Homo sapiens: one gene and its partners. The protein of the gene in region 3 purifies or fractionates together with the protein of the main gene of each other region. This does not show direct contact. Each region holds a gene or a part of one and is shown on either strand. Other genes may lie near its edges. The genes, in order: SYT1, MMADHC and MKLN1.

Region 1 (3,657 bases), on a different chromosome or scaffold from region 3:
ACTTTGTAAGCTAGACATCTGTCTTATACAGTTTTTTATAACCTATACCTTGATAAAGAGAAATAGTCTAACTGAAAACCAAAAATTTCTATTCCTGAGTAGAAATCAAAGAGGAAAGTCTCTAGAGTTTTACGAGTGTAATGATAAAATTAATATTTCCCATTAATAACTCCTACAGATACTCAGTAAGTGCAATGGTGAGAAAAAGGATAGCGAAGTAGATAAAAATAGAGGGAAGAGACACAACAAATGAGGAGATGAACACACAAAATGGGGAAAGAGAACACACACACAAAATTAACCAAGAAAAAGGTATGAGAGACCTCTCACTTAGTGAACATTTACCATATGCCAGACTCTATGCTGGGTACTTCATGTTCTATTCTATTTCATCGGTAAGTAAGATAAGGGGTAAATCATGTTAGGCCACTTTCTAGGTTAAAATTCTGAATGGGCAGTTTACCTAAACCCCTAGATTCTAGAGTGAAACCCGTCAGCCTGGTGTTAAGTTTCAAACTCTGCTCGTACTCAAAGATTTCTGAAAGAGGAAACTTGCTCAATGGTCCACATTCCCTTAGCTCAGAAAAAAACATTGCACAATTTTTCAGAAACCCACTGGGTGTGATCTTGGATGTCATTACCACCTGATAATTATCCAGGTGAAAGTAACAAGTGTGAACCATGCACCCTGCACAAGTGGGCATTGTGAAGTACCAGTGGTTCATGTTCTCATATTCAACCAACAAGCCAACCAAACACCAGTCAATTAATAAAACCAATCAGTTAATAAACATTTCTTATGGTCCTACTTTATCACCCAAAAAATTTACACAAAGTCAAACACTTCAACAAAAAAGTCAATGAAACATCCCACTACTTTGTTAAATAATTATAAACATTGTAACTGAATGATCGAATTTTTTTTTTCATGAAGATGTCTGTAACATTACTATTAGTTCACTTATAGGAAAGAACTATCCATAAAATCATATAATTTTAAAACTCGGTATTTTTCCTGGGTATTCTTGAATATCCACAGTAGGGCTAAATCTGTGTCAATGTCTAAGAAAGGTTAGTCAACATTCTTAGATATTGAGACAGTAAATATATATATATATATATATATATATATATATATAATAAGTATACATGAATATTATATACAAAAATACTTAAGCTCTGCTCTCTTTTTTGGAAAGTATAAGTATACATACTTTTTTCCAAAAAAAAGAGCAGAGTTTAACTTAAGTATTTTTGACTCATTTTGTAAAATCAAATAGCAAACAGCAATGTTAGAGTGAAAAGTTCAATTTCAGCATGGGAATTAATAGGCCTGTTCTAAAACCTCATTTCATCATATAGGGGGTATAAAGTTCATAGCCTCAGATTGGTCACAGAAAACCTTAGGCTGAGAGGATTCCCAGGTGATGGACTTGATTGAGTTTCTCTGAAGGCCTGACGTTCTCTCTGATCTCCCTGGTGACCCCAAGAGGCCAGGGAATCCTAGGGACCTGGAGATCCTAAATGACTGAGCTGTCAGCAATCTCTTGCGTAATTACAGCCTTACGTCAGGAACTAAAGAGTGACTGCGAAAGGAGTTGTTTTAGGAATTTGGAGAAGCTAAGGGTTGTTTGCTTTTCTAGTATTGGTCTACTGAAATGTTTGCAGAGAAAAATGCTGGTGCCAGGCAGGCATCGCATAATCAGATACAATTGATTATTATGAAGCTTAAATGCACTAAACATATTGAACTTCCCTTTTCAAGTCATGGAAAAATACTGGGCTAAACTATTAAAACTGGGAATAAACAATGTGAGGAGTAGCATAAAAATGTGAGTCATTTAAAAAATGGATTTAATATCAGGCTTTGTGAATTATATTTGATGTTTGACCAATCATGCTCTCGTATCTTTAGGAGAAACAATGAACTGTCTGTGATATGCAGAAACAATCAAGGAAAAAGTACCATTTTATTTCTGTGTAATAGCTACATAACCTATGCAGAAAACACAAAATGATTGTGGAAAAATGAGAAATAAAATAATTTTTCGTTGTCATTTTAAAGCAGTAGTTTATGAGTGTGTGTGGCCTTTTGTAAGCTTTTAGAAAGAGTTCCTGTGGGCATGTGTGTTTGTTTGTGTCCAGGGTTGCTGTTTCTAGATCCAGTACACAAATGTCTCTCTTCTTTCAGATAACACCCAGAAGACCTGTACACTTTTTAACGAGGTGGTGCAGTGCCCTTGACCCTATTTTATCAGCTGTCAACAACTAGAGGCCCACATCCCCCTTTGTAAAGAGTATTTCTCAATAAGTTATTATATGAGCAGCAACTGGCGAGTACAGCTTGTGATGTTAGAAATGCTAGTAATTCCCTTACCTCTTCCTTCTCAGCACTTTGCAGGTCACGCCATTCCTCAGTTACATGGCCAAAATCCACTGTGTTCATAGGGACTTTAAATTCTCCAATGATGTCATGCTTAGAGAAACGATCAAAATCATATACAGCCATCACTAGGGTTTTGCCACCCAATTCCGAGTATGGTACCTAAATTAAAAGACATGAGGATAAAATATCCAGTCACAAAAATGCTTAAAACATGTTACTTGTTCATGGTGCTTAATTTAATATTTACGTTGCATAAACAGAACAGGGAGATAATTTTGTTTTTGGTTATTTTTTAAATTCAGACTTTTGACAAACTGCTTGAGGCTAAAATTACTTGAGAGAAAATGGGAAATTTTAGTGATTTATTGCCTTATCTCAAAGTTCTAGAAGCTGTTAGCATTATTAATAATGGATCCTGCTGTTAGTTATACTATAAAGCCTTAAGATTAATAAAACAATAAACAAGCCAATTGCATTTGACTATAAGTAAGTTTTTCTTGTAGAATATTTTGTTGTTATTGTTGTTTTAAGTTGTATTGTCAGGGTGTAACTTACTGAGGGGCAAATAACTTATTTCAAATGCTCCATTAACTCTTTCAAGGCATTTAAATGCCACAGTTCAATGGAGCAATGATTTATTAAAGGCTATGCTAGGAGTCTGAAAGGATTGAAATGATATTCACAAGTGCCTCACCTACTCCCTAAAATAATTTGCTGATTGACAAGAACTGACTAGGAAATTGATGTTTTGAATATAAGAGGTGCATTATAATATGGGTTTTGAAGTTCATTCTTGGGTATGACATGCCTTAGGATGAGTGGTGGCAAAAGGCCAAGAACTGATGAATTCTCCAGCTGTTCAAATATATCTGGGACAGATGCTATGGGTTGGGATGTTTATTAGTGACATTTTTAATATTCAGTGAAAGCAGTGCAATCCAAGTAAGCTACACTTCAGTAACTGGGTAGAAATACCTAATTAAGAAATTGTTTAGACTTGTCTTAAAGGTTTGATCAATTTTCATACACTTCCTATTATTTTATCAGTGTAAATGGTTGTCTTATGCTTCAGCAAACATTTCTCAATTAACTCTGTATATTAAGGAGGGAAGAAAAGGAAGAATATTGGGCCATCTACATACAAGAAATTTTAGTTTTCCAAAGAGTTTTTCTTTTCTGTCATTTATTTACCATCTGTTTGGAACCTGATTATTTTATTAAAATGATATGATTAAAAAGTAAGCATCATCCTTTTTCCATTTTAGAAGGAA
Region 2 (3,757 bases), on a different chromosome or scaffold from region 3:
CATAACCAAATGGCATTAGTTAGCAACAAATCACTGTAGCTAAGGAAAGGTTGCTCCCCTTTGTTCAGAAAGGCTTTGTCACAGTCCCCATGAAGGCTTCTTAATGTACCTGTCTAGACTCTGAAACATGAACATTCTTGCCCCTTGTTATGAAACACTATCTGCATATTTCATTAGTAACATCCATCCACAATTTACAATCCATATAAATTAACACAAAAATTGTTATCGTACATTTGGATACTGAAACTTAAATTTATTTTAATATGAACTTCTTTCTAACAAAAGACTTATAAAAGGATCTTCCCTACTGAACTATTATAATTTATTCATTTAAACCAAAATAAAACCAGGTCAAATAATAGCATTCTATTCTACTTCAATTAATTTCTCTCCTTTGAAAGTACCACATACTTCTTTTACAGCATTCTCTTTCTGTGCAGGTTATGGGCAGGCAAAAATTCACCATAGAACTTGGCCAAGACTAGTAATCTATTCTTATGACTTGTCTCTATAGTCACACTTTAGACTTAATATACCATGTTCAATTACAGAAATAGCATCCTGGCTAAATGCTGCCATATAAATCTTCCTAGCACACAGCTCTAAGTGAATAATCACAATTTAAAGAATGAAGTCTAAATTACTGAGTTCGGCATTCAAGGCTCTCATTTACTTGGTACCAACCTCACAATTCAACCTTATCTCCCACTTATCTCTTTCATGCAGCTTACATTCAGGTTGGCAGGCAGCAGTCACTTTTCAGTTTTTCAAAGGGGTAGGCGGGTTGGGGAGTTCTTTGAATATACCTTCCTGTCCTTCCCGCTCATATTTTAGACTATACAAATCCCACCTATCTTTCAAACCTCAAGTTAAATGTTTCCCTCATGAAGTGATCCCAAACTCCTCTCCACAAAGACTTGAATCTGCATTGCACCTTCGTGTAGGTTCTAAAAAAAATTATTACTTTATACTTTAATTGTAGCTGTTTTTATATATGTCTTATGACCGCTACATATGAATTCTATAGATAGGATGTGTCTAATCACTGCAAAGTTACAGTCAATAAATATCTCTGGTGTGTGAGAGTATCTCCTATTCTTATTTTGTAGGATTTAGAAGGTCACTTCCAATATGGAAACTGTTTTAAAAAAAAGAAAAAAAGATTAAAAAAACCCTTCAGTTTAGCTAACCCAAAAGCTAAAAAAGGGCCTAAACATAGATTCTAATATTTACTGAAACGCTGTATTTAAAAAATACCGAAAGGGTGCTTGAATTTCCACATCTGTACAAATGAAATTGTATAAATAAGTGTATTTGCAGTGCAAAGAATGCTACCATCTTCAAAGCATAACATAATTTCACACCACTTGCTTCCCTTGACATTTTTGATACATTATATCTAACACTATACCACCCAATGCCATCATAATTAAACCCGTTCTTTCATTCCTAACATTCCCAAACGAGTTTACTATGCTGATTCTTAAGAGATAATTTACTCACATTGGCCATCTCCGCTGGAGAAGATAGTTCGCAAAATAGCTTTCCTTTGGTAAAGTTATTTCTGGGAAAGAACACAACAAAACAGACGAGTGATCGATTAAACTCTAACAACAGACAACTGAGGTAACGTCCACTCTTCGAAGGTGTGTCGTCCACCACGTCAGGACCAAAGTCCAAGCTCTCCCCGTACCCTAAGGAGGCCAGAACTCGCCCCCATGCCAGGCACAGATCCCCCAGCCCGGAGCCGGCAGTGCAGCTCAGAGCCCTTCCGGTTTACAGCCGCGGAAAAACAACTCGGACCAGATCCGGGAGGGGAATGGGGGCTGGGTGGCCAAAATTCAGTCCAGAGGATCGAAGCGGCTGCTTTAACAGAAGTTGGGGCTGCGTAACAACAGCTCCAAGCAAAGCTTCAGGCTGATCGGAAAGATGAGGAAGCAGAAAAGAGACTAAAGACAGACGGACAGGATGGCTGGGGACAACGACAGGGACCCAGTGAAAATACGGGCAATACCGAGGGCTGTAACCCTAACACGGGCAAATTTGGAGGGGCTAACATGGGCGGAAACCATCCGTACCAGTCACCACCACTGTCTCCAGCTGTCCCAGAACCGGACTCTTCCTGCCATCAAAATGGCGGCGGCGACGGCAGCGGTGGTAGCACCTACGCTGGCGGTGAGCAGGCAAAGGAAGTTGCTTCCGAGCGCGTCGAAACGATGATGCGCACGCGCAAAGTAGGCCTACGTGGAGCCGACCTGCCATTGGGTAAACGCAAGGGAGGAGAAAAGGTGGGGCAGGGGTGATTTGGGTGGATGGATAGGAGGGCTTCCGACCTGCGTTAGGCGGGTCAGTTAATCTTCAGTAACTCCTTGATGCGTTTGATAGTCCTCCCAACTTAAGCCTTCCTTACTGCCTCCAGGAGATACAGTCTTCTGTTCTTTTTGTCATAGTTGTTTATTTTTCATGAATCGCTGTTTTTGAGCATAGGGCACTTACCTCTTTCTGTGTCCCCAGCCCTACCACAGTGCCAGGCTCTCAATATGCTCGATAAATATTAGGCGATTGATTTGTAAATCGTGTATCATTTTCATGTATCTAATACTTTTTTAAAAATTGATTAAAGCCCATAAGCCCATATTTTATTCCAGATGTCCTTAGTTTTCGACCTGGTATTCTTTTCCATTCCAGGATCCTGTCCGGAGTACATCACCATGTCTTCCAGGCTCCTCTGGACCGTGACCGTTTCTCAAACTTTCCTTGTTTTTGATAACCTTAATAGTTTTGAAGCGACTTATTGGTCATTTGGTCAAATGTCCTTCAATTGGGTTTTGCCTGTATTTTTCTCATGCATTAACTGAGGTTATGGGTTTTTCTTGAGTTAAGAGGTAAGGTAAAGTGATCTTCTCATCACATCACATCAAGGGTATATACTATCAACATGACTTATTACTGTTGATGCTAACCTTTATCACCATTATTACAGTGTCATACAGAAAAGTTTTATAGTTCTACAAAGATCCCCTTTGTTTCATCTAGTAAGCCCTTCCACCTCCCTATGTAGGGTTTGTCAGGTTTCTCCACTGTGAAGTTACTGTTTTTCTTTTCCTCTCCATACTATACTATTTGGAAGGACATCTCTCTGTGCAGCCCAAACTATAGGAATGGGAAATTGTTATACTCCACCTTTATGAGGACAGAATATCTTCATGAATTATTTGGAATTCTTCTGCATGGGAGATTTGTCTGTACTGCATTTATTTATGTATTCAATCATTTATGTCAGTATGGACTCATGGATATTTATTTTACATTTTGGGTTATAATCCAATACTACTTTATTTTGTTGTTCATATTGGTTCCAGCTTTGGCTATTGAGATTTCCTTTAGTTGGCATTTGTGTCTTTTTGACAAACCCTCCTCGTTTTATGTTTATTGATTTTTTTTCTTGAGCATTTTCTTAATTTCTATAAGTTGCTCCAGGCTCATCTTGTATATTCCCTGCCCCAATCCTAGAATCAGCTGCTTCCCCAAAAAGCCAAGGGTACTTTTAATGGAAAATGATATTAGAAATCAAGATTTGGACATTTGGGATGTTGTTGCTTCTAGACACTCTCAGCTGACAGAGCAAGGAAATATTTGTGGATATGCTAACCTGACTAAATACGCATATCTGTAAGTATTTATATATGTATCCATCTGTATCTTTGACAGCTACACAGGCGTTCTAGGTTCAAATACTAGAGCTGTTATCTTC
Region 3 (3,657 bases):
GCCCATAGTATTCACAGTACAAAAACTATGATGTGGCTGTAAGTTTCAAGAATTGAGCAACTACTAATTTCTCTAAACTTGGTTCCTTTCTAGAGCCAAAGGATAAGTTAAGTCTCTGTAGATATCAAAACTGCACAAGATTTTTATCAGCTAATCTTAACCAACTGAGTACGTCACTAAAGAGACCTTTAAAATATAACTGTTTTTAGCTTATTAACTGTAGAGTTGCCTGTGGCTGTTGTTTTGCTTTCCCTTCACAAAATGGTATCAAATGCCTTACTGATAAATATCTGAAACAAACAAAAAAGCCCTAAAATTACCTATGCCTCCCTCATCTTATGAGGTTAAAAAAAACCCACAGAATTCACTCCTAGAAATGGCATATATATATATATATATATATTTTTTTTTTATTGGTAGCATTTTAAAGTCTGTTAAGAGATTAGTTATTTGTTTGTTTATACTCCAAAATATACTCAATTTCAAACATACCTATCATTTATTTGCAAGTATCATCATCAATCAAGTAAGCAATAACAATGCACAAGGCTTAGAAGCAGATTTGTCATATTTCAAAAAGTGGAGCTCAAAGCAATTCATTTTAAGTTAACTTTAAATTTATAAACTCAAGGCAGTACAAGTCTGGTTTTTTTTTAGCTACCCAATATCTGATAAATATGAATACCTAATAATAGACGATAATAACAGTGATAAAATTAAAATGAGAGCAAACCACTGAATAATCTATTATTTCTTATTTCTTCCTATAAAGGATGCACCAAATTCAATTCCACAAGTTTTATATTGTGCAACTATTCTGTTGTTTGTCACTATGAAAGTTACTGAGGAAGATTAAAAAAAAAAGTCATACTATAAGCAACAACAGAGTCCCTTTTTAGTTTAAATAACAAAACACATCAGACCTTAAAAATCCAAATGAGTGTTACCCTCCAAAGCCAATACCCTGGGAGATAATACAGATGTTCAACTATTCACATTTCTTTCAAAGCCAGACTACAGGTCACACAAGAAAATCAGCAATTATATAGCATTCACACCACAAGGAAGTTGTTTTCAATACAAATCTCCTTGTTCCTTATATATAATTGTTTACTAATAACATTTTTTATTATCTAGCCCCCCTTCTCCTCAAAACTACACTGTTAATGAATATTGGCTACCAATATCAAAATATTATTTCTGATACAGTTTAATGCTAGTTAATCATTTGTAAGTGCATGGTTTCCCAAGATGACAACTTAAATTTATATGTGAGTTCAAGTACATTTCAATTTTTTAAGTCTCATTACATCATGGATCTATTTTACATGAAAGAAGTCCCTAATCCAAAGAGATAACAATCTTTAACCGAGTAAAAAACCAAGAAAAAAAATTACAGTAATAACTGGCATAAGCCTATATTATTTTTGAGAAAAAGTTTCCCGTATGTACTTGAATTTACCCTAATAACCAATCTAAGTTTCATACCATTTACAGCCTTTTCAATCAACTCTTCGCAAGCATCAAAATCACCCTTCAACACCAGCTTGTCATGAATATCTGTTAACATGGGATGTTCCAGTGCAATCTTGGTTTTCTTTTGCAGTGACTCAAAAGCTTCTGTATAGTTGTGTTGTCTGAAGTGTTTTAGGCAAAGGCGAATAGCTTCCTGTTCACGGTACTACTAGAACACAGAGTAAGTATGGAAAGAAGAGATTTGGTTAGATGATACTGTAGGAAACAATAACAACAGTAAAAATAACTAATCTACACTGAGCATTTATTAACACTATGTGCCAAGCAGTTTACTAACCTGATTCATTAGGTATCATTATTTGGCTCTTTTAACTAGCAAAACTAAAGCTTGGCCTGTTCCAATAACTTGCTCAAGGTCACAAAATATGTAGCCAAAAGTTATTAAACCAAACCTAATTCCAGAGCCTCAACTTTGAAGAAAGGGAGAACATCTATTTCTTAAACTCCACTTAATACTGTAAAAATTATAACTCCATAGCATCTATTAATCCCATTACAATGCAGGTACTGAGAGCACAAAAGAACATTAAATAATCCACATAAATTATATTATGCTATTTTTGGTTTTTAAAAATAAACTATTACTTGAATGACAAGTATCAAGTATACAGATATTTCAAATTTACAAACACATTTTATGACTCAAAAATCATCAAAAAGAGACATTTAATCTTTTTTTTTTTCTTTCTTTTTTTGAGACAGGGTCTTGCTCTGTCTCCCAGGCTGGACTGTAGCGGCATAATCTCAGCTCACTGCAACCTCCGCCTCCCAGGTTCAAGCAATTCTGCCTCAGCCTCCTAAGTAGCTGAGCTTACAGGCACGCGCTACCACGCCCAGCTAATTTTTGTATTTTTAGTAGAGTCGGGGTTTCACCATGTTGGTCAGGATGGTCTTGAACTCCTGACCTCAGGCAATCTGCCCACTTTGGTCTCCCAAAGTGCTGGGATTACAGGTGTGAGCCACTGCGCCCGGCCCAATTTAATTGTTTTCTAAGCCTGAACTACCTCATCTATTAAGCAGCTATAAAGTAGACATCTCAATTAACTGGAATCCAAAAAGCAGGCACTTAATTTATTAAAATTTTCCCCTAATAGGATAGATGCCAAAAATACAATCTTATAAAAAGGATTTTTTTAAAAAAATCTCAACTTCAGGAATATGTTCTGGGACTACCTCAAACTTCCTAAGTATACCACTATTCAAACAAACAGATGACATGGAAGCCTGCATGATAATCAAACAACAATGATTTACTTATAGGCATGACCCTTTAATAAGGCAAGAAAATAATGTGTTTAGGAAGATGTATAAGATTTGAAACAAATCAGTTGATAGCTGACTTAACTAATAAAAGGTCATTAAACACCTAATCCTTACACGTTATAATTAACTATAATTAATTAACAACTTAATTATAATTAGTTAACTATAATTAACTTACTCTTGGCCTCTAAAAAAGACTTATCATAACTACCATGTAACAATATATATTACAGTTATATTAAACAGCAGTATTTTTTAACCCTGTTGACTACTTTAGGAGTCTAAATCACATCCACATCTTAAATTTTCCATTAGGCTGCAAAACTATCCCACTAAAAACTATGTTTTAAGTATTTATATGAATACAAGTGAAAAAACAAAATTCAGAGTCAAATGGGTATAATAACATAAAAGCAGACTGTGGAGCCAAACTGCCTGAATTCATATACTGGCTCAAACACTTTACAATTGTGTGATCCTAGGCAAACTATTTAATCTCTCTGTTCTTCATTTCTTCATCTATAAACTAATGGGGATAATAAGTGCACCTGTCTCATAGAGTGATAATGACTAAGTGAGTTATCAGGATTCCTTAAAAGCTGGCAGACTGGAAGTGCTTAATAAAATGTTAGCTAACTGTTGTTATTATTATTTTGAATATTTTAAATTATTCTCAATGAAGATAAGAGATTGACATATTTCTCCTTTTATAGGCATTAAAGTCAGGATTTAAAACACAGTCCTACCTTGCTATACCAGTTGAGACAAGGTTGTACTATATCAGGATCATCAATGCCACTAAGTTCAACATACCAGATGCTAAAGTTAAAGCTGGGTCCCCAGGACAAGAGTGGAACT

What was found.
Region 1: the proteins of MKLN1 (region 3) and SYT1 purify together in Homo sapiens (co-immunoprecipitation; one large-scale study listed by IntAct). This does not show direct contact.
Region 2: the proteins of MKLN1 (region 3) and MMADHC purify together in Homo sapiens (affinity purification with mass spectrometry; one large-scale study listed by BioGRID and IntAct). This does not show direct contact.

The regions. Positions count from the first base shown.
Region 1 is NC_000012.12:79,298,272-79,301,928, reverse strand, and holds part of SYT1 (synaptotagmin-1), read right to left. Parts: intron 2,546-3,657; coding exon 2,378-2,545; intron 1-2,377. UniProt on the Homo sapiens protein: Calcium sensor that participates in triggering neurotransmitter release at the synapse. May have a regulatory role in the membrane interactions during trafficking of synaptic vesicles at the active zone of the synapse.
Region 2 is NC_000002.12:149,585,583-149,589,339, forward strand, and holds the start of MMADHC (cobalamin trafficking protein CblD), read right to left. Parts: upstream 2,194-3,757; 5' UTR 2,082-2,193; exon of another isoform or gene 1,776-2,081; intron 1,568-1,775; 5' UTR 1,516-1,567; coding exon 1,507-1,515; intron 1-1,506. UniProt on the Homo sapiens protein: Involved in cobalamin metabolism and trafficking. Plays a role in regulating the biosynthesis and the proportion of two coenzymes, methylcob(III)alamin (MeCbl) and 5'-deoxyadenosylcobalamin (AdoCbl). Promotes oxidation of cob(II)alamin bound to MMACHC.
Region 3 is NC_000007.14:131,397,265-131,400,921, reverse strand, and holds part of MKLN1 (muskelin), read right to left. Parts: intron 3,656-3,657; coding exon 3,546-3,655; intron 1,685-3,545; exon of another isoform or gene 1,682-1,684; coding exon 1,489-1,681; intron 1-1,488. UniProt on the Homo sapiens protein: Component of the CTLH E3 ubiquitin-protein ligase complex that selectively accepts ubiquitin from UBE2H and mediates ubiquitination and subsequent proteasomal degradation of the transcription factor HBP1.